Linked DNA regions of Homo sapiens: regions 1 and 2 are each linked to region 3. Evidence: fine-mapped expression QTL. A gene starts in region 3. Each other region holds a variant in brackets. All regions are shown on one strand. Distances are from middle to middle.

Region 1 (8,178 bases), 24 kb before region 3:
TTTCTTTCTTTCTTTCTGTTTTTTTTGAGACAAAGTCTCACTCTTGTCGCCCAGGCTATAGTGCAGTGGTGCCATCTTGGCTCACAGCAACCTCCACCTCCTAGGGTCAAGTGATTCTCTTGTGTCAGCCTCCCAAGTAGCTGGGATTACAGGCACCCGCCACCACGCCCGGCTAATTTTTGTATTTTTAGTAGGATGGGGTTTTTCCATGTTGGCCAGGCTGGTCTCAAACTCCCAACATCAGGTGATCCACCCACCTGCCTCGGCCTCCCAAAGTGCTGGGATTACAGGAGTGAGCCACCGCGCCCGGGCAATAAGTATTTTTAAAAAGCCATAAGAACTAATAAGTGAATTTAGCAAGCCTGTAAAATAGAAGGTTACTATACAAAAGCACGTTCTTATCTATTAGTAGCAAACAATTGGAAAATTAAAATTTTTAAATTTTATTTAAAATAGCATCACAGGCCGGGTGCCTGTAATCCTTGCATTTTGGGAGGCCAAGGTAGGCGGATCACCTGAGGTCAGGGGTTCCAGACCAGCCTGGCCAACACGGTGAAATCCCATCTTTACTACAAACACAAAAATCAGTAGGTCGTGGTGGCGTATGCCTGTAATCCCAGCTACTCGGGAGGCTGAGGCAGGAGAATCGCTTGAACCCAGGAGGCGGAGGTTGCAGTGAGCTGGTATTGCGCCACTGTACTCCAGCCTGGGCAACAGAGTGAGATTCCGTCTCGAAATAAATAAATAAATAAATAAATAAATAAATAAATAAATAAATAAATAAATAAATAAAATAGCATCACAAAAAATACAACATTTAGAATAAATTTAACAAAAGATGTGCAAAACTTCTATTCTGAAAATTACAAAACAGGTCGGGCGCAGTGGCTCACACCTGTAATCCCAGCACTTTAGGAGGCCGAGGTAGGAGGATTGCTTGAGTCCAGGAGTTTGAGACAAGCCTGGGTAAGATGGCAAAACCCTGTTGCTACAAAAATAAAAATAGCCAGGCGCGGTGGCTTATGTCTGTAATCCCAACACTTTGGGAGGCTGAGGCGGGGAGATCACTTGAGGTCGAAATTCGAGACAAGCCTGAGCAACATGGTGAAACCCTGTCTCTACAAAAAATACAAAAATTAGCCGGGCGGGTGGCGGGCGCCTGTAATCCCAGCGACTTGGGAGGCTGAGGCAGGAGAATTGCTGTCCGGGAGGCGGAGGTTGCAGTCAGCTTCGACCGCAGCCTGGGAGAGCAAAACTCCTTCTCAAAAAACAAAAACAAAGGGAGAAGAAGAAAAAGAAAAAGAAAAAAGAAAAACATGCCAAAAACACATAGTAACTGAAGGGAAAGGAATCTGCCAGCTTCCCACTATGGGAAAATCTGCCACTGTGGAAGCTGGCAGATTTTAAAAGTTTGGCAAACGGAAGCTGATGGAATTTCGATTTGATGGTTTCTATTTAGCTTCGTAAAATAGGCCTGGCATAAGGGGATTTGCTGTGAGTCAAGGTCTGAGGAAAGCGCCAGTTTGCAAAGCCGTTTTGGAAAACTGGAGCGTGGGGGTGTGTGCAGGGTGAGGGGAGGAGGCCTAGTCTGGTCCACCTTAGGTCTAGCAGAGACTACGTGGAGCTTTGAGCCGAATGCCCTGGTGAGCTGCCATGGCAACACAGCCGTGGGCACAGGCCCACGGCAACCCATCACTGAACAGAGTTGTGGCGTTTCAACAGAGAGTCTGGGACATCAGGCAACGTGGCGACCCGAAGCAGCCAAAATGAGACCTCGACAGCAAAGGCCTCGACAGCGGAGCCCGGACCTTTGCAAAATCTGCAAGTAACGCCAACGTCACAAAGCGCGACCGAGCCCTGTACGTCATCGTTCCGCGACGCCGACGCGGTGAGATGACGCCCTCCCGGAAGTGACCTCTAGAGCGGTGGTGAAACTGGCAGTTGACGGCTCCTGGGACTAGATCCCGCGAGGTAGCCCCCGAACTATTTCTCTACGTTTTCTCTTGATCCTCCCGAAATCTTCCAGATCCGCGTAGTGAGGAATCGTCTCCACCGTCATGGGGGGCGGAGACCTGGTGAGTGGAGGGAGGCCTGGGCGGGGGAGGACTGAGGCCGGGACGGAAATTGGCAGGGGGTGGGGGTAGAGGAAGGAGTGGATAACCATGGCAACGCAGCTTTGCTTTCGCCGGGAGGAGGCCGTTGCCCTGAAGAGGGGATGGATCCTTAGGGCAATGGAGGGGTGGGACTGAGATTTGGGAAAGTCCGAGGTGTGTCGCGAACAGTGACAGGTGGTGTTTGCGTGTTTGTTGACTGCGGCTCTACCGGCTGTAAATTCTGGGAAGACCGGGGAGGGGGCGGATGGAGCCATGGCTAGGAAAGGAGGTAGATATGGAGGACGTGTCACCACACTTTGTTTTGTATATCTTGTCTTGCCACACACCTCTCTTCCTTGGGTGAGAGTTCAGAGTCATGTCCTGGACTGAAGTAGGGGTGGTTTGTGCCCCATTCTCCCTACCCTAAGCCATGCCCTGGGGTCGTTTTTTATTTTTTATTTTTTTGAGACGGAGTTTCTTGTTGCCCAGGCTGGAGTGCCATGGCGCGATCTCGGCTGACCGCAACCTTTCCCTCCTGGGTTCAAGCGATTCTCCTGCCTCAGCCTCCCGAGTAGCTGGGATTACAGGCATGCGCCACCACACCCGGCTAATTTTGTATTTTTAGTAGAGACAGGGTTTCTCCATGTTGGTCAGGCTGGTCTCGATCTGCCGACCTCAAGTGATCCGCCCGCCTCGGCCTCCCAGAGTGCTAGGATTACAAGGGTTAGCCACAGCGCCCGGCCCTGGGGTCCTTTTTAAGCCTGAAGGGATCTTCCTGTCCATCTTTCTGACTTCCACACCTCCTTCAGTGCTGGATTCTGATCTGTAGTGGCAGAGCTTGCTTTTGAATTCATACCACTTAATATAAGTTATGTGGCAATGTCTCTTAAACTGAAACGTTCATTTGTAAAGCGCTAAGGCCCCAAATAGGGTAAATGTACCCACAAGAGCATGGGGCAAGGTTGGGAAAATGCTAGCCTCCGGAAAGTGGAGCTAATTGAACCAGCAAGTAGATCAGCTTAGCCGCCTGCCCAGTAAACCTATTAGTTTGTCATGTGTTCTCAATCACAGTGAGTGCCAGGACTCCATCTAGTTTCATCCAATTTAGTGTATTCTTCACATAACTGCATTTAAGGACAGGAAAGCTCTAATCCAGGGTTTCTCAACATTAGCGCTCT[T/C]GACAGTTTGGCCTAGATAATTCTTTGGGGGTGTGTGGTAGTGGTGGTAGTTGGGCTGTCCTGTGCATTGTAGAATGTTTAGCAGCATCACTGGCCTCTAGCCACTAGACTGGAGCTATCCACTAACACCCGTCTCCACCAGTTGTGACAGCCAAAAATGACTCCAGAAGATTTTCTCCCTGGGGAGCAAAATAATCTATGCTTGAGGCAGGGAGGACAAGATGGGAAGGGTTAGAGGGAGAAAGAGGGAGGGAGTGAGGGAGGAAGGACGGAAGGATGGACGGATGGTCAGACCAACTGACGGACTGACCCACAACCAACCAACTGAATGACCTGACGAAGGGGAGAGGCAGGACAAGGAGGGGAAGAGAAAAGGAAGAAAAGGGAGCTCTCATTGACCGAACATTTTCCACATGCCAAGTACCTTGTGGACATGATCTTATTTTCTTAATTGGTCTCCTGGTCCTCTCCAGTCCATTCTCTTTTCTTTTTTTTTTTTTAAGATGGAGTCTCAGCCAGGTGCAGTGGCTCATGCCTGTAATCCCAGCACTTTGGGAGGCAGAGGCGGGTGGGTCACGAGGTCAGGATTTGAGACCAGCTTGGCCAAGATGGTGAAACCCCGTCTCTACTAAAAATACAAAAATTAGCTGGGAGCAGTGGCGGGCGCCTGTAATCCCAGCTACTTGGGAGGCTGAGGCAGGAGAATCGCTTGAACCCAGGAGGTGGAGGTTGCAGTGAGCCAAGATTGCACCACTGCACTCTAGCCTGCGTGACAGAGCAAGACCTCGTCTCAAAAAAAAAAAAAAAAAAGTTAAAAAAAAAGTTGGAGTCAGGCTGGGTGTGGTGGCTCACACCTGTAATCCTAGCACTTTGGGAGGCCAAGGCGGGCAGATCATGAGGTCAGGAGATCGAGACCATCATGGCTAACACGGTGAAACCCGTCTCTACTAAAAATACAAAAAAAATTAGCTGGGCATGGTGGCGGATGTCTGTAGTCCCAGCTACTCAGGAGGCTGAGGCAGGAGAATGGCGTGAACCTGGAAGGTGGAGCTTGCAGTGAGCCAAGATTGCGCCACTGCACTCCAGCCTGGGCGACATCTCAAAAAAAAAAAAAAAAAATTGGCCAGGCGTGGCGGCGCATGCCTGTAATCCCTTTACATGGCTTATAAGGCCCTTATTCTGCTCCTTTCTCACTTGGCTTCTTCTTGCGTCCCTGCACCATCAGCTTGCCACATCTCCAGCCACACTGAATTATTGCTATGTTCTTTCTCACCACCAGGACTGCACTTGTCTGTACTGTTCCCCTCTGTTTGGAAATCTACCCCCCTCATCTCCCCTTCACACATCACCAGGCTAGTTTACAATTGTCTTTAGATATTACTTACTTTGGGGAACATTTCATTATTGGGAAAGTGAACCAAAGCAGTATCTGATGGGGAGGAGAGAGAGAAGTGTTCTTTGAGGGTGAATGGGGAGATCAGAACCAAGGAGAGATTCCTGGGAAGGAAAGTTGAAAGAGATTCTGGGTGGGTTGTAAACCATGCAAGTTTAGGGCAGGTGAAGTAGACCAAGCTAAGGTAGGTTGAGTTCCAAAGAATGAATGTCCATGCCAGGCACGGTAGCTCATGCCTGTAATCCCAGCACTTTGAGAGGCCAAGGCAGGCGGATCACCTGAGGTCGAGAGTTTGAGACCAGCCTGACCAACATAGAGAAACCCCATCTCTACTAAAAATACAAAATTAGCCGAGTGTGGTGGCGCATGCCTGTAATCCCAGCTACTCAGGAGGCTGAGGCAGGAGAATCATTTGAACCCAGGAGGCAGAGTTTGCCGTGACCCGAGATCCTGCCATTGTACTCCAGCCTAGGCAAGAAGAGTGAAACTCCGTCTCAAGAAACAAAAAAGGCTGGGCACGGTGGCTCACCCCTGTAATCCCAGCAGTTTGGGAGGCCACTGCGGGCAGATCATGAGGTCAGGCGTTTGAGACCAGCCTGGCCAATGTGGTGAAACCCCATCTCTACTAAAAAATACAAAAATTAGCCAGGCATGGTGGCACGTGCCTATAGTCCAGCTACTCAGGAGGCTGAGGCAGGAGAATTGCTGGCACCCGGGAGGCGGAGGGTGCAGTCAGCCGAGATAGCTGCACTCCAGCCTGGGTGACAGAGTAAGACTTTAAAAAAAAAAAAAAAAGAATGAATGTCCACTGTCAGAAGTGCATGAGTTCTGTTCTCTTTCAAAATATGTGCCTTCCTGCTCATTACTGCATTCCTCCTGTCTTGTCATCACCAACTCTGATTTAGGTATGGCTAGTGGAAGGATGACTTGTATGCTTTTAAGGTTAAAACTGTTTGAAGGGAATTCAGGAAGGACCCGTTCTATCCTGAAGCTTTCTTGTTCTTGTTCTTGTTGTTTTGAGACGGAGTCTTGCTCTGTCGCCCAGGCTGTAGTGCAGCAGCGCAGTTTCGGCTCACCGCAACCTCCGCCTCTTGGTTCAAGCGATTCTCCTGCCTCAGCCTGCTGAATAGCCGGGACTACAGGCGCACCTGCCACCACGCCCAGCTAATTTTTGTATTTTCAGTAGAGGCGTTTCATCATGTTGGCCAGGCTGGTCTAAAACTCCTGACCTCAAGTGATCTTCCCGCCTCCGCCTCCCAAAGTGCTGGGATTACAGGTGTGAGCCACTGCGCCCGACCTGTCCTGAAGCTTTATACACTTGAACAAGCTCCCCTTCCCCTCTAGATGTGTGAGAGATTATTGGAAGAAAACCTTGCCATTGTTGAAGACATCTTGCCCTCACACGCCTGCCTTGGGTATGGAAGGGTGGGTGAGGCAGGGCTAGTTATACCCACCACTCAGTCACCCCCCGAATTATCATCACCTTCTTTTTATTTACCACAGAATCTGAAGAAGAGCTGGCACCCGCAGACCCTCAGGAATGTGGAGAAAGTGTGGAAGGCCGAGCAGAAGCATGAGGCTGAGCGGAAGAAGATTGAGGAGCTTCAGCGGGAGCTGCGAGAAGAGAGAGCCCGGGAAGAGATGCAGCGCTATGCGGAGGATGTTGGGGCCGTCAAGTAAGTGAGGAGCTGGGGGTGCGCTTGTGTGTAGGGAATTGCAGAGCTGTCCTGAGATGCATCATCCAGTGTTGTATAATGGCTGAGTGCTTAAGGGCATGGGTTGTAATGCCAGACTCACCTGGATTCTAAGGTTGGCTTTGCATGTACTAGCTGTGGAACTGTGATCAAATTTGAGAGACTTGGTTACTTCAGTAGGACCAGGGAGTAATAATACCCAACGCCTTCTTAAGGTTTGTTGAGAATCAAATGAGATAACACGTAAGGACTTGCTGTAAGCCGAGCTCACAGTAGATGGCTGATAACCGTGATGGAGGATGGTTGCTCTACCCTGCTTCTCAGCATATGTTGAGGATGCAGTCCTGCCTTTGTTAATGTATTTCAGGCTTGCTTGGGTCGGCGGGGACAGGGGGCAGGGAGTGAGGTCCCATGAGAGAAGGTGGATGGTATGCTTGTCAATAAAAGCTGAGTGATTACGGCCAATGCCACTAGATTTTACCCTGCTTCAATTTCCTGTTGTATAATATAGGATACGAGTAGCAGATAATAACTACCCCATCCATCTCATAAAAGGAGATGGGAGTAAATATGTTTGAGAAAATAAAAAGCATACAATATGCAGTGTATTCTTAAGTCAGAATAAAATAAAATAACAGATAGACTAAAACTGGGGACTAGGTGCGGTGGTTCATGCCTGTAATTGCTGTATTTTGGGAGGCTGAGAAATCACTTGAGCCCAGGAGTTTGAGACCAGTCTGGGTAATGTAGTGAGGCTCCATCTCTGTTTAAAAATATATAGGCTGAGTGTGGCGGCTTATGCCTATAATCCCAGCACTTTGGGAGACTGAGGCAGGCAGATCACTTGAGGCCAGGAGTTCTAGACCAGTCTGTAGTAGGAACCCATCTCTACAAAACAATAGAAAAAAATTAGCCAGGCACGATGGCTTACGCCTGTAATCCCAGCACTTTGGAAGGCCGAGGCGGGCAGATCACTTGAGGTCAGGAGTTCGAGACCAGCCTGACCAACATGGTAAAACCCTGTCTCTATTAAAATACAAAAATTAGCTGGGTGTGGCGGTAATCCCAGCTACTCAGGAGGCCGAGGCAGGAGAATTGCTTGAACCCGGGAGGCAGAAGTTTCAGTGAGCTGAGATCATGCCACTGCACTCCAGCCTGGGCGACAGATTGAGACTCCATCTCAAAAAAACGAACAAACAAAAAAAAAATAGAGGCTGGGTGCAGTGGCTCACGCCTGTAATCTAGCACTTTGGGAGGCCGAGGTGGGCGGATCACCTGACGTCAGGATTTCGAGACCAGCCTGGCCAACACGGTGAAACCCCATCTCTACTAAAAAAAAAAAAAAAAAATTAACTGGGCGTGGTAGCATGCATTTGTAGTCCTAGCTACTCGGGAAGCTAAGGCAGGAGAATCGCTTGAACCCAGAAGGTGGAGGTTGCAGTGAGCTGAGATTGCGCCAGTGTACTCCAGCCTGGCGACAGAGCGAGACTCCGTCTCAAAAAAAAAAAACCAAAAATTAGCCAGGCATGGTGGCACATGCCTGTAATCCCAGCTACTCGGGAGGCTGAGGCAGGAGAATCACTTGAACTCAGGAGTTGGAAGTTTTAGTGAGCTGAGATCACGCCATTGCACTCCAGCCTGGGTGACAGAGTAAGACTTCGTCTCAAAAAAAAAAAAAGAAAGAAAGGAAAAGTTAGCTGGGCATGGTGGCATGTGCCTGTAGTCCCAGCTACTTGGGAGGCTGAGGTAGGAGGATTGCTTGAGCCCAGGAGTTCGAGGCTACAGTGAGCTATGATTTTGCCACTGACTTCGGCCTGGGT
Region 2 (8,156 bases), 39 kb after region 3:
TCCTGGTGGTGATTTTGTCCTTCTCGCTGCAGAGGGAGAAAATCACAAGAAAACATCTCTACCCATCTGGACCGTGACTGTGACTAGCTCTCCTGGCCCTCAGCACCAAGCCCTCAAGCCCTGCGGCAAGGGAGCAGAACAAATAGCTGCCCGCTGCCTCTAGGTGTAACTATCCTGCTCTAGTTCATTCCTGCTAGCTCATCTCCTCCGCCTGTGGTGAGGAAGGAGGGATAGGAACAGAGACCTGGGCCGACTTTCCACAGGTGGAACCACCTCAGGGAGGCTTTCCCAGAAAATGATTCAGGGCCAGACTTCACAGCTCTCAAAAGAAGGGAAGGAGCTTGGCCGGGCGCGGTGGCTCATGCTTGCAATCCCAGCACTTTGGGAGGCCTGAGGCAGGCGGATCACGAGGTCAGGAGTTCAAGACCAGCCTGACCAACATGGTGAAACCCCGTCTCTACTAAAAATACAAAAATTAGCTGGGCATGGTGGCACGTGCCTGTAATCCCAGCTACTCAGGAGGCTGAGGCAGGAGAATCACTTGAACCCAGGAGGCAGAGGTTTGCAGTGAGCTGAGATAGTGCCATTGCACTCCAGCCTGGGCGACAGAATGAGACTCCATCTCAAAAAAAAAAAAAAAAAAAAAAGGGGGAAGAAGCTCCTCCAAGCCTAGAGAACAAGCCACTTAGGAAGGAGAAGGTGTGGTGTGTTTCACCCCAAAGAACATAAAAAAAAACCGTCGGTGGTAAATTCTGTTTTTTGGGTTTTTTGTTTTTGTTTTTGTTTTTTTTGAGACAGAGTCTCACTGTGTTGCCCAGGCTGGAGTGCAATGGCGTGATCTTGACTAACTGCAACCTCTGCCTCCCAGGTTCAAGCAATTCTCCTTCCTCAGCCTCCCTAGTAGCTGGGATTACAGGCACGTGACACCACGTCTGGCTAATTTTATGTATCTTTAGTAGAAACGGGGTTTCGCCATGTTAGGCTGGTCTCAGACTCCTGACCTCAAGTGATCTGCCCACCTCAGCCTCCCAAAGTGCTGGGATTACAGGCGTGAGCCAACGCGCCTGGCCAAATACTATTTCACGGTAATTAAGCAGGCTATCCCCCAAAAGGGTCCAAATGCTTATCCTGCAATGTAGGAAAGTGGTTGGAAGGATACCTCCTACTCTATCCAATCAGGTTCCTGGTGATGGCCCCAAACAAGTAAAAGGACAAGGAGGATGGCACTTAGGGAGTTGGCTGAGGCTTGGAAATTGGTCTCTAGAGCTCAGAACATCACACAGATCTGGGCTGGAGAGAGGATGCGAGCCACCTAGAATTTCAATCCATCTGCAGTAGCTTTGTTGTGGCTCACCCCAACACGGATCCCTGAGACTTCGGAGACATTGTTAAGGAAGAAATGTCTCTTGTGAGCACGGGGTCACAGAACCTCACCTGACAAGAGGCCAGAGGAAGCTGGGTAGGCTGCCAGTTACCAGCCATAGGGAGGCATGGACTTTTGCTCACCCAGGACTGCCAAAAGCACCTTTCTTATCTCACACCTGACCAGGGGGCTGGGAAAATGGGGTGTATGCTCGTGGAGAAGGGAGAGAGGCAGGGTGTCTGCAGAGCTTCTAGACTTCTCCCAGCCCATACTCACATGATGTGGACAATGACTCCCATGCCTGACACTGCATCCCGGTCCACAGCATTCAGCATGGCTTGGGAGATGGTTTCAAACAGGTGATCCGGATCCTGCCAACAGAGTGGAACCCCTTCAAACCACAGCCTCTGGCTCTGATTTGGTCTGGTCCCTTAACTCTCTTTTTTCTAGGCTCAAGATTCCCAGCTCTGGCCCCAAGACATGCCTGAAGTAAGGGATGATTCCCAGGATGTGGGAAGCCCCTCTCAGCTCCTTCCTTGGAAGGAAGCAGAATTATGTAAAGGAAAGTGAAAGAGACTTCAAGCCCTGAATTTCTTTTACTAATCAGCAGTGTGACATTGGGCAAATAGTATGTCTCTCTTCACTGAGCCTCAGTTTCTCTGTAAAATAGGGAGAAGAATCCCTATTTAGCTCCAGTGTGCTTTAGCAGCTGTCTGATGGGCTCTGATCCTGGATATCTTAACAGGTACCTCAAAACCCAACCTGTCCAACCACAAACCCACTTCCCCCAAACCTGTTCCTTCTACATTCTGTCTTGGCTAGCCTAGCTGGAGAACCCAGCCATCCTCTGTCTCTACATCCTTCGCTTCTGTTTTAAGTGACTAAGTCCCCTTGACAGCTGCCTTCCTGCCTCCCCACTGCCACTGTCTTTGCTCAGGACCTCAGCGCCTCCTGCAGGCGGTAACAGCCTGTCACGTCCACCTAAAGGCACCTGATTCCCTAGGTTCCTATGGCAGAGGACAGAGTTCAAACTCCTTGGCATGGCATTCAAGGCCCTTTGAGGTCTCATCTCAGTCTCCAGCATCATTTCTCCCCATGTTTAACCCACACTCCAGCCAGGCTCAGCTCTCCAGTCACTGAGCATACCTGCCCCTTCCTGTACCTTTGCCCCCAGACCCTTTCTTTCCTCCTCTTCCCAACAAACTGCAGTTCAACAGGTATTTGGATGTGTCTTGCTTCACTGGACTGCAGTGGGCCCTTGAAAGCAGACTGTACCTGCTTTCCCCAGTGGCCGGAAGAGCTGGCACTTAATAACGACAGCCGACCCTCGCCGTCAAGCACTATCTCATCTCTTCTCACTTGTTTTTGTGCTCGCTTCGGCAGCACATATACTCATTTGTTTTCCTCAGCACCACTTTTTTTTTTTTTTTTTTGAGACGGAGTTTAGCTCTTGTTGCCCAGGCTGGAGTGCAATGGCACGATCTTTGTTCACCGCAACCTCCGCCTCCCAGGCTCAAGCGATTCTCCTCAGCCTCCCGAGTAGCTGGGATTACAGGCATGCACCACCATGCCCGGCTAATTTAACTTTTTTTTTAGTAGAGACGGGGTTTCTCCATGTTGGTCAGGCTGGTCCTGAGCTCCAAACCTCAGGTGATCTGCTTGCCTCAGCCTCCCAAAGTGCTGGGATTACAGGCGTGAGCCACCGCGCCCGGCTTCCTCAGCACCACTTCTAAGGCAGACTTTTTTATCCTCATTTTACAGTCAAGGTAGTGGAGGCAGAGAGGGAAACTGGCTTCTCCAAGAACAATAACTAAGGTGGTGGGTGGATCCAGGTTGCCAACCCAGACAACCTGTTGAGCTGCCTCTAACCCTACACTGAGTTAAATGTTTGCTCAGTGAATGGATGCGAGAACCCTGTAAACCCAATGTAAGGAATTCTTACTGCTGTGGCAAATATCTAACTGTGGTCTCCTAACAGAAGATGCTCTCCTCTGGAGCCAGCCAGCCAGCCTGGCAGATGGAATTTCTGGATACCCTTCCAAGGAGCAGCAGCTGTGGCTTTCTCTCCCACCTGCACCATTCTCCCCATTACCTGCCACATAAACACACTTTTTTCCTAATGACCAAGGGTGGGTAACTCAGAGCCCAGCCCCTCTCCATGCCACCAACGTACCATGTTGGGCTCCCAGAGGGACTCACACATTCCGTACATTTGTTCGGCGCAGGTGCCACTGACCACAAAGTCATCAGTCACCATGGGGCAGCCGATGAGGTCTAGAGAGCAAATGAAGGGCTTAAAGGTCTTCGGGTCCAACCCGGCAATGACTGGCTCAGTGTAGTAAGGGCCAAACCTGTGGGGGCCAGCATCAGAGAGAGAAACCAGAACTCAAGAACGCTCGCTTTCATGTTTAAGCCTATTCAGACAAGGCCCCGGCCTAGACCCAGACCCAAAGGGAAATGGAGGACCTGTTTAGGAAGATCACCTTTCCCTGAGGCCAGCTCCCTCTCCCTTCTCCTGCCAGCTAGAAATATTCTAAGACTTTTCCACTTTCTTTTCTTCAACACTTACCTTTCTATCCTTCTCACCTCTGACCCTCTTGTGCTCCTTCTTTCTTTCAGAATTGTTTTCTTCTAATCCTCCCTCTCCTCACCCAAGGTCCTACCATCACTCAGTCCTCTATGTGTATGTTTATACCTCTACTCCTTTAGAGAAAAGATTGGAGGCAGTTTATATGAAAAACACTGAAAAATAAAACTAAACCATTAAAACATAATACAAGATAACTCAGACTGAACACAAAGTTTTGTTTTGAGCCCCCTAGCAGGCAAGGCAAAGAGGGATACTCAGTGGCTGGGTTACTCTCATTGTCAAAAGGAAATGGCAGCTCATCAGAAACTTGTTCTAGACACTGATCTTTAAGAAAAATCAGTCTTGGGCCAGGCGCGGTGGCTCACACCTGTAATCTCAGCACTTTGGGAGGCCGAGGTGGGTGGATCACCAGGTCAGGAGATCGAGACCTTCCTGGCTAACACGGTGAAACCCCCTCTCTACTAAATATACAAAAAAAAATTAGCTGGGCATGGTGGCGGGTGACTATAGTCCCAGCTACTCAGGAGGCTGAGGCAGGAGAATGGCATGAACCC[G/A]GGAGGCGGAGCTTGCAGTGAGCCGAGATCGCGCCACTGCACTCCAGCCTGAGCGACAGAGCGAGACTCCATCTCAGAAAAAAAGAAAAGAAAAGAAAAAAAAAAAAGAAAAATCAGTCTTAGGGATCTTTATGTACAGATGATGGTCCCTGACTTATGATGGTTCAACTTAAAATTTTTCAACTTTATGATGGTGCAAAAGCAACAGGCATTCAGTGGAAACTATGCTTTGAAATTTGATCTTTTCCCAGGCTAGCAATTTGTGGTACCAAACCCACTCCTGATGCTGGGCAGTGACAATGAGCCGCAGCTCCCAGTCAGCCACACAATCACCAGAGGAAACAACAGATACTTTACACTGTTCTGCTGTGAGCAATTTTTGGATATAGTGTTTTGTGTATTTGCATCCTATGTCTACAAAATACCCATTTCAACTTACAATATTTTAAACTTATAACAGTTTATAAGGTAAGGAATATCTATAAAATACCAAATAACAAATGGCCAATATCCTCAGTAGAAAGAGTCAGTAAAAGAGACGTTATCCATATGTCTTATTGGATCACAGTCATTTCTTTCTTTCTTTCTTTTTTTGAGACAGTCTTGCTCTGTCGCCCAGGCTGGAGTGCAGTGGTGCGATCTTGGCTCACTGCAAGCTCTGCCTCCTGGGTTCGAGCCATTCTCCTGCCTCAGCCTCCTGAGTAGCTGGGACTACAGGTGCCCGCCACCATGCCCAGCTAATGTTTTGTATTTTTAGTACAGACGGGGTTTCACCGTGTTAGCCAGGATGGTCTCAATCTCCTGACCTTGTGATCCACCCACCTCGGCCTCCCAAAGTGCTGGGATTACAGGCGTGAGCCAATGCTCCAGGCCTGGATCACAGTCATTTCTAAGGGCATGATCTTCAGTTATAGCTCTAAATAGAAACACACACACATACACACGCACAGTTCAAGATTACAGGCATGAGCCACCATGAAAATAACTTTTTTAGGCCAGGCATGATGGCTGACGTTTGTAATCTCAGCACTTAGGGAGGAGGCCAAGGCTGGAGGACTGCTTGAGCCTAGGCATTCAAGACCAACCTGGGCAACAAAGTGAGACCCCTGTCTCTACAAAAAAATTTAAAAATTAGCCAGGCATGGTGGCATGCACCTATGGTCCCAGCTACTTGGGAGGCTGAGGCAGGAGGATTGCTTGCACCCAGGAGGCAAAGGTTGCAGTGAGCCATGATCGCACCACTGCACTCCAGCCTGGGCGAAAGAGTGAAACTCTCAAAAAAATAATAATAATAAAATAAAAAATAAAAATAATAAAATAAATGTCTTACTCTTATTGAAAAGAAAAAAAATACATTAGGTGACCTGAAAAATTCTGGATTCTTAGCTACTATTGACGGGAGCTTCCTCTATGAGCCCATCTGAAATCAGTGATTTTTCTGGCAGGACAGGCTGAGGCATTGAACTGCAAACCTGAGCAATGTCCAGACCCTTTTTAAAATCTGGACCCCAGAGATACCATCTACGCACCTCTGTCTGAAACACTGCAGTAAAAGTTACTTCAGATGGTAACTCGGCATCAGCATAATAGGAAGTTCAAACACAGGCCCTGAGCTGTGTTATAGTATTTGGTTTTAAGGTTCTTATCCAGATAATCCCAGATATTATTAACTTTTTTTTTCGTTGGCTGGGCGCAGTGGTTCATGCTTGTAATCCCAGCACTTTGGGAGGCTGAGGTGGGCGGATCATGAGGTCATGAGTTTGAGACCAGCCTGGCCAACATGATGAAACCTTGTCTCTACTAAAAATTAAAAAATTAGCCAGGTGCAGTGGCAGGCGCCTATAATCCCAGCTACTCAGGAGGCTGAGGCAAGTTGCTCACAGCAACCTCCACCACCCAGGTTCAAGCGATTCTCCTGCCTCAGCTTCCCAAGTAGCTGGGATTACCGGTGTGTGCCACCACGCCCAGCTAATTTTTGCATTTTTATTAGAGATGGGGTTTCACCATGTTGACCAGGATGGTCTTGATCTCCTGACCTCGTGATCCGCCCACCTTGGCCTCCCAAAGTGCTGGGATTACAGGCATGAGCCACCACGCCCGACCTATTTTTTATTTCTTTTGAGACTAAGTCTCACTCTGTCACCAAGGCTGGAGTACAGTGGCATGATCTTGGCTCACTACAACCTCTGCCTCCCAAGTTCAACAATTCTCATGCTTCAGCTTCCCGAGTGGCTGGGATTACAGGCGTGCACCACCACACCCAGCTAATTTTTGTATTTTTAGTAGAGATGAGGTTTCACCATGTTGACCAGGCTGGTCTCGAACTCCTGACCTCAAGTGATCCACCTTCCTTGGCCTCCCAAAGTACTGGGATTACAGGCATGAGCCACCACGCCCAGCAAGCCATTTAATATACATCCAAATATGAGTTAATTGTTACAACTTTATAAGACTTTTTGCAGGGCGCAGTGGCTCATGCCTGTAATCCCAGCACTTTGAGAAGCGGAGGCAGTAGATCAGTTGAGGTCAGGAGTTCAAGACCAGCCCGACCAGCGTGGTGAAACCTTGTCTCTACTAAAAAAAAAAAAAAAAAAAAAAAAAAATTAGCCAGGTGTGATGGCACACACCTGTAATCCCAGCTACTCAGGAGGCTGAGGCAGGAAAATCACTTGGACCCGGGAGGTGGAGATTGCAGTGAGCCGTGATTGCACACCAGGGCGACAGAGCAAGACACCATCTCAAAAAAAAAAAAAGAAAAAGTTTTTGAAAGCTAAAGGGTATTTTTACAAATTACAAAAATTACTTCAAAATAAAAAGTTAAAAGAAAAGAAAAAAAAAGAGATCAGGCCAGGCATGGTGGCTCATGCCTATAATAGGACTTTGGGAGGCCAAGGTAGGTGGATCACCTGAGGTCAGGAGTTCGAGACCAGCCTGACCCACATGTTGAAACTCTGTCTCTACTGAAAATACAAAAATTAGCCGGGTGTGGTGATATGGACCTGTGGTCCCAGCTACATGGCAGGCTGAGGCAGAAGAATCGATTGAACCTGGGAGGTGGAGGTTGCAGTGAGCCGAGATCACGCCACTGCACTCCAGCCTGGGTGACAGAGCAAGACTCCGTCTCAAAAAAAAAAGAAAAAGAGAGCTCAACTTATATTCTGGCCACCCAGGTTTGCCCAGAGGTAGAAAGCACCCACAGGGTTTCCTTTCAATTCCATCCTAGATTTCTGCACTAAATTCTACAGTTAGGCCCCTTGTTTCTCACCATAAAGCCCTCAAGGAGAACTGACGAAAATGAACACCCCATTCCTAGGCTCCCTGCTATTCCCAAGAAGCCAGTGCTGACAGAATAGCTCTAGGGCAAGAGTGGCTCCTGCTGGGAGACCCCAGAACACTCTGGTGGGACTAACTCTTTTGCCTAGATGCAAATTTATCTGCTATGTGCATTCCTTGCCTTCTTCCAACATAAGTATTTTCTTTCCTATCTGGTTGCCAGACAGGCCCAAAGAAAACACACCCATAAAATAAGGATATTATCCTGCAAATAAGAGATGGAAAAACAAGGAGAGTCCTCTTCCTCAGTACCTACTCCATACTACATTCAAAGATGTCTGCATTCCCTCAGTGCTAGCTACACTTGCACTCACCG
Region 3 (8,178 bases):
TTCCTTCAGCTTCTGGCTTCTAGCTTAGTCCTAAAGTAGTGTACTCATGGGCTGTGTCATGAATTTCTAGTCTCCAATGGGTAGTTAGATGGTAGATGTTAACAGTTACATGGATAACCTAGTCTTCTGTTCTTCTGTCAATTGTTGAGCAAACCATTGGGATATAATTGCTACAAGTTTAGGTTCCTGATGAGTTCCCAATTTATTTCATATTTCATATTTCAGAATAATCACTCTAGAGATTACTGAGTGAGATTATGGAATACTTTACTAAAAGCCTTTGAAATTTGGATGAAACCTCCTGACCAGGACGTTAGAAGGGAACTCAGGCTGGCCTTGCACTTGGAGAGAGCAGTGAACTGGAGAGCTTGGGGTCCCACCTGGCTTCTGTGCTTCTTGTGCTGCTTCTGGTTTTTTTGCTGGAAGAGACCTGATCGTATGGTTTCTGTGCTCAACAGAAAACTCTCTGCAGAGGAATTAGAGCGAAAACGGCAAGAGATGATGGAAAACGCCAAATGGAGGGAGGAGGAGAGACTGAACATCCTCAAGAGGCATGCTAAGGATGAGGAACGGGAGCAGAGGCTAGAGAAGCTGGACTCCCGGGATGGGAAGTTCATCCAGTGAGTGCATCTTCTTCCTGCCAGGGTCTTTCATGGGGAAGGTCTTAAGAGGCAGGCTGGCAGCTGGTTCCCGTTCCAGTGTTTCTGTGTTTGCACATGGAGCCCAGCCTTCAGACCACCTTGGCTACTACTCTTCCTTTCTGACCACACAGTGGGATGTTTTTCATTTGAGGGGAGGAGAAGTGAATTTGGTATTTTCTAAATCATTGAAATTCCTTGACCTTCCTTTTTAATAAGAATTCATGGCCCAGGAAGCCTTTTTCCAATGAGGCTTTGACTTATTTTCCAAAACAGATACATTTTCCCTTATGGACACTGGTTTAAAAACATTTGGTTCCAGGTGGAGTCACTCGAAAGTTATCTATGGGAGCTTAAAAGAGGTTGTGTTTTTACAGCTGCTCTATGGCTAACAACCCATTTCTTCTGAAGCTGCCAGAATAGTTGACTGATTGAAAATGTTTTTGACTTGCATTTGCCTGTCTTCTCTTCCTAGCCGCATGAAGCTGGAGAGTGCATCTACTTCCTCCCTGGAGGATCGGGTGAAGCGGAATATCTACTCTTTACAGAGAACTTCGGTAGCTCTGGAGAAGAACTTTATGAAAAGATGAAAACTGTCCCCTCTCTTATTGGTTTTCCTGCATTTTCCAGGGAAGCTGCTGACCCCTTAATTCTCTTTATAAGAGTTCAAATGACTTCTTTCACAGATGTCAAACCACCAGTGTTCAAAGTGACCCTGCTTCATTGAGTCCTGAAACAGCTCACTTCCTTTGAGAGCTAGTGTGACTTGCTTTGTGGGACACTCAGTAACTTTGGGTTTTGACTCTTTAACGGGTGGGCACTGGACCATCTCGGTGGGAGTGCTTGTGCCACTCTGGAAGGCTGTTCCCTGGGGTTGTGATGTTTATCATGCCACTTCCTTCTTACCTGTGCCAACAGACCTATTTCACTGCCTCAGCGTACACCAGACCCTTCAGAAACCTCTCTGGTGTCACCCAGATAGATTGTGCTTACTGAGACAAATGAACGTTTACTTGATTTAGAAGATAATGTGACAGAATGATGTCAGGTTAGGTCAAAGCCAAGGGAGTGACAGAATCTGGAAAATCAAACAATACAAAAAGCCCTAAATGAACTGTTAACTATTTGATCTTTGGATGTAAAATTGTAATGCGTATATGTACAAATGTACAATTTTTACATGCTTTTAAAAAAGGTTAGCTTTGTGAAAATACCTTGTTTGGTCAATGACTTTACTGGGTAATAGAACCACATTGAACCTTGATGGCAAGTAATACAATAAGGCAGGCCAGCTCGTTTTTCTCTCTGAATCTGGCTGGTTTAGGAGGAGCCTGGGTTTATCGACGAGATCTGGAGTATCTATTCTTTTCCACTGCTTGCAGTCTCCAATGTAGGCAGTGTAAAGGTATAGTAAAATGATTTTAGGAGTCAGAACCAAATTGCCAATATGCTCCATGGCTCCTAAAGGAAAATAAAATGGAAGTTTTTATTTTGCGGCTTCACTTCTTACCGTGTAGTAACCTTACTACAATTACAGATTTTCAGGAGTTGTTTGCTAGTCTCTTTCAGTCAGGTACTAAAAAAAAAACAAAAAACAGGCTGGGCGCGGTGGCTCACACCTGTAATCTCAGCACTTTGGGAGGCTGAGGTGGGCGGATCACGAGGTCAGGAGATCGAGACCATCCTGGCGAACACGGTGAAACCCCGTCTCTACTAAAAAAATACAAAAAATTAGCCGGGCGTGGTGGCGGGCGCCTGTAGTCCCAGCTACTCGGGAGGCTGAGGCAGGAGAATGGCGTGAACCCAGGAGGCGGAGCTTGCAGTGAGCCGAGATTGTGCCACCGCACTCCAGCCTGGGTGACAGAGCGAGATTCCGTCTCAAAAAACAACAGCAACAAAACAAAACCCTCGAGGGGCCACTCTCCTGTCTTTACTCCTTTTCCCTTCTCTATTCTTTCACCAGAAGCCCTCATTTGACCAGTGAACTCCTAGGCCCTCTTGACCCGCACATTAGCTGGGCGATTTCCTTGTTCTGCTAATTCCTAATTCTGCTTAAAATGTATTTGGATTTCTGTTTTTGAACACTTATGATGCCAGGCACTGTAATGCTTGAAACCCGATCTTTCCCTAGAGAATGTAACATACGTTTTTATTCATTTAATCACTTCATTATGCCGGGGTTAATTATGTTTATTTTATAATTGGTAATAAAGGCCACATTTATTTTTGTAACTGTTTAAAGAGCGACCACCTGTGGAGTACCGTGTTTACGAATTTCCATGCAGAAAGAACAACGTTGACCTGTAATTTGTGTCGAATATATGGAGATCCCTCATCTGAGAATTATGTAACAAAGCGTGGGGCAGTTTACTCAAAGATTTTACGAAATGAGCCAGAGTAAGACGATTAGTGGGATAGGTGTCTGAAGGTGCTGGCGGCCTCTGAGCTCTGACCCTTTGCGGGGAGAACAGGCAGCAGGTGGGTGGGCGCGGGGCCCATTCATAAAAACCAGTGTTCCTGGCCTGCTTCTCTCATTGGCCCTGGGGGCAAGGGGCGTGCCCCGCGGGTGGAGCGCGCCCGGGGCCCAGCAGAGTGGGCAGATCCACGCTTAGGTGGAGCGAGGGGGCGTTCCTTGGCTTTCTAGGCTGGACTTTCTCTTCCCCTTGCTGCGTCCCTCCTCTCCCCCGGGGTGGGCATGGTACGTCCCGCCCTCCTCGCATTCCCGTCCCTCCTTCCCTTCCGGAGCGGTGGCATCGCCGCCATCTTGGCATTCGGGTTGCGGGAAAGAGCCAAACCCTGGCGTTGGGGGGCCCGGGCGGGGAGCCCCTCCCGCGGTCCACAGCGACGCCTGCCCAGCCCTCCTCCCCTTCCGGCTCCGGCACGGGGCCCCGAGGCGTTCGGAGGCCAGGCGGGTTTCTGTCAGGCCCGGGGAGGAGGGGCGGGCGGGGCGGCCGCTGCCTCCCCGGGACGGGCCGTACCACGCGGACGGGGAGGACGGGGCCAGGGGACTGCAGGGCGGCTGCACCGCCCGGGGGCGGGGTGCGGAGCGGGCCGGCGGGCTCCCCGGGGCGGGGCGGGAGGGCGGGGCGTGGGGCGGACGGAACCACCGGGGCGGGGTGGGAGGTAACGGGACGGGCGCGACCATGGCGCGGTGAGGGAGCGGGGGTGGGGATCGGTCCGGGGGAGGCCTGAGGCCGCTGGCTTGTGCGCTGTCTCCGCCGCCCCCCTCTTTCGCCGCCGCCGCCGCCGCCCCGGGCATGTCGTCCAACTGCACCAGCACCACGGCGGTGGCGGTGGCGCCGCTCAGCGCCAGCAAGACCAAGACCAAGAAGAAGCATTTCGTGTGCCAGAAAGTGAAGCTATTCCGGGCCAGCGAGCCGATCCTCAGCGTCCTGATGTGGGGGGTGAACCACACGGTAACCAGCTCCTGCGCGCCCCTCTGAGCGCGGCCCCGCGCGCTCCCACGCCCCCTGCAGCCCTGGGCCCTTGCCCCGCAGGCCCTGCCGGTGACGCCTGCCACCCCTCGCCAAGCCACTTGCACGCCCACCCCACCCTTGCACGCCTTTCGGCCCCGTGTGCACTCCCCGCACGCCACGCGAGGCCTGGTGTCTCTGTGGTCTGCCGTCGCCACCTCCCCTTCCCTCCAGCCCTTCTGGCTTCCTGCGTGTGGCGTGCTCGCTTGGGGCAGCCCATGGAGCGCAAAGGCAAGGCCTCAGTGCAGTGGAGTCGCTTTCATCCCTGCTTCTCCTCCTCCCCCCTCATCCTGTTTGTGAGGGTGTATATTCCCCCTTGTTCCTTACAGCCGGCTGCCAGCTCTGTCAAGTAGCAGTGGTCTGCCCAAATAGTCCTCTCTTTCTGATCGTTTGGTTGTTGTGGCTGCTCAAATTCTTCCATCCTCCAGGCCTCCTTACCTTTGAATGTAGAACTCCACCCTGGGTTTCCTTTTTTTTCCCTCTTGAACAAGATGTATCAACTGGAGAAGCACAGGCTTCCTTGAACCAGACACTTCACCTGGGTCTCTCTGGGTTAGGGAGAAGAAAGAATGGCTATTAACCATTTGAGAGAAGAGGATGCCTGGTTATAAGGAGGGACTATTCATAGTAGAAATAATATGTCTTCCCATAGTTTTTGAAGGTGATCATTTTAAAGATGTTGACTTATCTGTTGTGTGGCTGCAATGTTGTGATGATGCATAGTGATTATGGTCCTAGATAGGAGAGATAGGTCCCCTGGGTCCTTAGGGTGCTTTGAGATTGTTCAACAGCCCCTGCCAGGAAGTTGGATCCTGACAGTTTAAGCTGGAAGACTGTTTATGTGGTGTTTGTTCAGGGTCTTTATTCTCCCTCTTCCAACCACTTGCTCTTTGCCTTCTGACCATTTCTTTATGAATCCCCACACTAGGAATGAGCAGAGGAAGTAAAAGGACCCGAAACACCAACTTCACTAACTAGAATTTTGGAATAAGGAGGATCAAGCTTGGGTTTCCTGTGGATTTCAGTTCTTTAGGTTCACTTGTGAGTGCTTGAAATTGCTCACAAGACCAAGCGATGACAAAGAGGGCCAGCAAGACTTTGCATTGCTTTGGCAGAGGAGCTGAAGGTGCCTTTGGGTGGAGATCGATGAACCGTAATCTGAGCTAGGGTTTTAGATCTTGACCTGTCATTTAGGAAAGTGCATGTGTAAATTGAGGTCTCTGTGGTTTCTTGGTCTTGGGCAGGTTACTGTTTTCACTGTCATCACTGGTGTTAGTGAGGGTCCTGCCAGGATAGCGAGTACCAGTGGTATAATGCCCAGACCTCTAGGAGCTGCTTCGGGCCAACAATCCAGCCCAGTTTGTTACTCGGTCTTCCTGCTGTCCCAGGGGTCATCTGACAACATTTCTAGGGAAACTGGGTGATCAGAATATGAACCCCATGTCCCTTTCTGGAAGTCAATCCTTGATTTTGTTCTGCATCCTGCTTCTCACTCTACCAGGCCTCTCTCTGCTGGTTCTGTTTCTCACAGAAAGCAACCTGTCTGTAGAGAACTGGTAGAGGCCTGAGAGTCAGGAGTATTACAGCTAGCTGCAATGAACCTTGGGTCCCTTATTTTACACATGAAGAAAAGGAGGCCTCAGGTGGAGGATTAGCTTGCCTGTGGTTACAGCAAGAGATGTCGCTTATTGTCTAGCACCATGGGACTGTATCGGCCAAGGGTGGTGCCTGAGTGGCTGGTCTTGTTTTCTTTGCCTCCTGTTTCTTTTCCTCTCCCTCAGCCAAGTCTCAGGATAGATGCGAAGTATAGTCCGGTTAGAGAAGGTGAATATATGCTCTGGGTTATACGCCTATGCATGTCAGGTCCTGGGAGTGTGTGTGATGCATGGTGTTCCGATAGGCAGGCATGAGTCTGTCCATATGTGGTTATGAAGTTTCTCAATAGCTGATGGTTAGGTATCACGAGTCAGGAGTCCTGTGAGTCCTACTCTGTTGGACAAAGTGGTCATCTTTTTTCTTTGCTAACTTTAAGTTGAAAGTTTGTTTGAGGGGCTAGTTGGAAAGGCATTGACTTTAAGCAAGATCCGTGCCTCTGGACATAATGAACAGGCATCTCATGGGAACTTCCCACCACTGCCCTGGACAGGCTAAGCTTCAGAGGCCAGTTAGTCGTAAGTTTTATTGCTTCATCCTGGTCTGCAGTAAGGTCTGATACTTCAGTGTCCCCATTTGGGAACTGAGACATCTGCCTAGAAGAAGAGTGTAATCTTGCACTCGTCTAAGGGATCAGGACCACATTGCCCTCGGTGGACTGCTGCACTTTTTTGGAGATTTCCTCCCTTCAAAAAAAGCCTACTTTGTAACATTTTGTCATCTGAGATTTCAGATACCACCTTTTCTTTAGTTTCTCACCTGTTTAGGCATTTAGGCATGCTGGTCTGTGGCTAATGGTGTTTCAGATAGGAAGGATGGATATGTCTTTATCTACAGCAGAAGTTAGTTACCCTTTCATGAGGTGATTAGTTTACTTCTAGGTGGAAAAAGAGAGGACTTTGAACTTGGTGTTGTCACAGGAGCTGCTCTCATGGACAAGAGCCCATGGATTTTGTGGAGGAAGAATGTGTAGGAAACAAGGAGAAAAATCAGAAGACTTTGCACCTGTCAGGGAAGAACTAGTGAAGAGCAAAAACCAGTGTTTTAGTGGATGAAATACAGTTCCGAGGGTTTGGAATTAGGGAAGAGATGGCCTCAGAGAGGAGCATGGAGACCATGGGAGGTAGACCTGACTTGATACTTGTTGGCCATTTTAAGAACCAGGTATGTGTGAAGCCTTACCACAGGGATCAGAGGAGCAGGAGCAGTTGATGGTGACTCTGTATTTAACCATTTGAGAAACTGCCAAACTGTTCTCTAAAGTGGCTGTACCATTTTACATGTCTACCAGCAGTGTATAAGAGTTCCAGTATCTGCATCCTTGTCAACACTTGTTATTGTCTTTTTAAAGTTATTAAAGCCATTCTGTTGGGTGTGAATTCGTATCTCATTGTGATTTTGTTTGTTTGTTTGTTTTTGTGATGGAGTCTCACTCCGTCACCCAGGCTGGAGTGCAGTGGTGCAATCTCGGCTCACCGCAACCTCCACCTCCCGGGTTCAAGCAATTCTCCTGCTTCAGCCTCCTCAGTAGCTGGGATTACAGATGCCTGCCACCACACGTGGCTAATTTTTTTATTTTAGTAGAGACAAGGTTTCACCATGTCGGCCAGGCTTGTCTCAAACTCCTGACCTCAGGTGATCCACCTGCCTCGGCCTCCCAAAGTGCTGGGATTACAGGCATGAGCCATCGCACCCGGCCTCATTGTGACTTTGATTGGCATTTCTGTGATAACTAATGATGTTGAGCATTTTTTCATGTACTTACTGGCCATTTGTACATATTCTTTTCTTTTTTTTTTTTTCTTGAGACAGAGTCTTGCTCTGTCGCCCAGGCTGGAGTTTAGTGCCACAATCTCAGTTCACTGTAACCTCCGCCTCCTTGGTTCAAGCGATTCTCCTGCCTCAGCCTCCCAAGTACCTCGGATTACAGGTGCCTGCCACCACACCCAGCTAACTTTTGTATTCTTAGTAGATATGGAGTTTTACCATGTTGTCCAGGCTGATCTCAAACTCCTAACCTCAGGTGATCCACCTGCCTTGGCTTCCCAGAGTGCTGGGATTACAGGTGTGAGCCACTGTGCCTGGCCTGTACATTTTCTTTTTGTTGTTGTTGTAGAGACAGGGTCTCGCTTTGTTGCCGAGGCTGGTCCTGAACTCCTGGCCTCAAGTGGTCCTCCCGCCTTGGCCTCCCAAAGGACTGGGATTGCAGGCATGAGCCACATCCCCAGCCTTCATTGGTATCTTTTCTTTGGAGAATGTCTATTAAATTTTTTGCCCATTTACAAAGATCTTTTTGCCCATTATTAAATTGGGTTATCTTCTTATTATTGAGTTACAAGAATTCTTTTTATATTCTAGATACAGGTCCCTTATCAGATATATGATTTGCAAATATTTTATCCTATTCATTGAGT

The links.
Region 1: its variant is fine-mapped to the expression of PIP4K2B in whole blood (TOPMed, PIP 0.98). The same link has a PIP of 0.9 or more in thyroid and tibial nerve.
Region 2: its variant is fine-mapped to the expression of PIP4K2B in esophagus muscle (GTEx, PIP 0.91).

The regions. Positions count from the first base shown.
Region 1 is chr17:38,819,063-38,827,240 of GRCh38, reverse strand. CWC25 (CWC25 spliceosome associated protein) reads left to right here and starts at 1,920. Exons shown (of 10, transcript NM_017748.5): 1 at 1,920-2,075; 2 at 6,168-6,340. The coding sequence starts at 2,058. MIR4727 (microRNA 4727) reads right to left here and starts at 1,403; the gene lies at 1,349-1,403. RefSeq lists an enhancer at 2,581-3,212. The variant T/C (reference allele first, on the strand shown) is at 3,272.
Region 2 is chr17:38,755,989-38,764,144 of GRCh38, reverse strand. It overlaps PSMB3 (proteasome 20S subunit beta 3), which reads right to left. Exons shown (of 6, transcript NM_002795.4): 3 at 8,155-8,156; 4 at 3,537-3,714; 5 at 1,640-1,734; 6 at 1-26. Among named protein-coding and RNA genes, the nearest start is that of PSMB3, 7.3 kb to the right of the region's middle. The variant G/A (reference allele first, on the strand shown) is at 4,508.
Region 3 is chr17:38,795,142-38,803,319 of GRCh38, reverse strand. PIP4K2B (phosphatidylinositol-5-phosphate 4-kinase type 2 beta) reads left to right here and starts at 3,764. Exons shown (of 10, transcript NM_003559.5): 1 at 3,764-4,054. The coding sequence starts at 3,896. CWC25 (CWC25 spliceosome associated protein) reads left to right here. Exons shown (of 10, transcript NM_017748.5): 9 at 459-620; 10 at 1,114-2,879. The coding sequence ends at 1,228. RefSeq lists an enhancer at 3,769-4,587.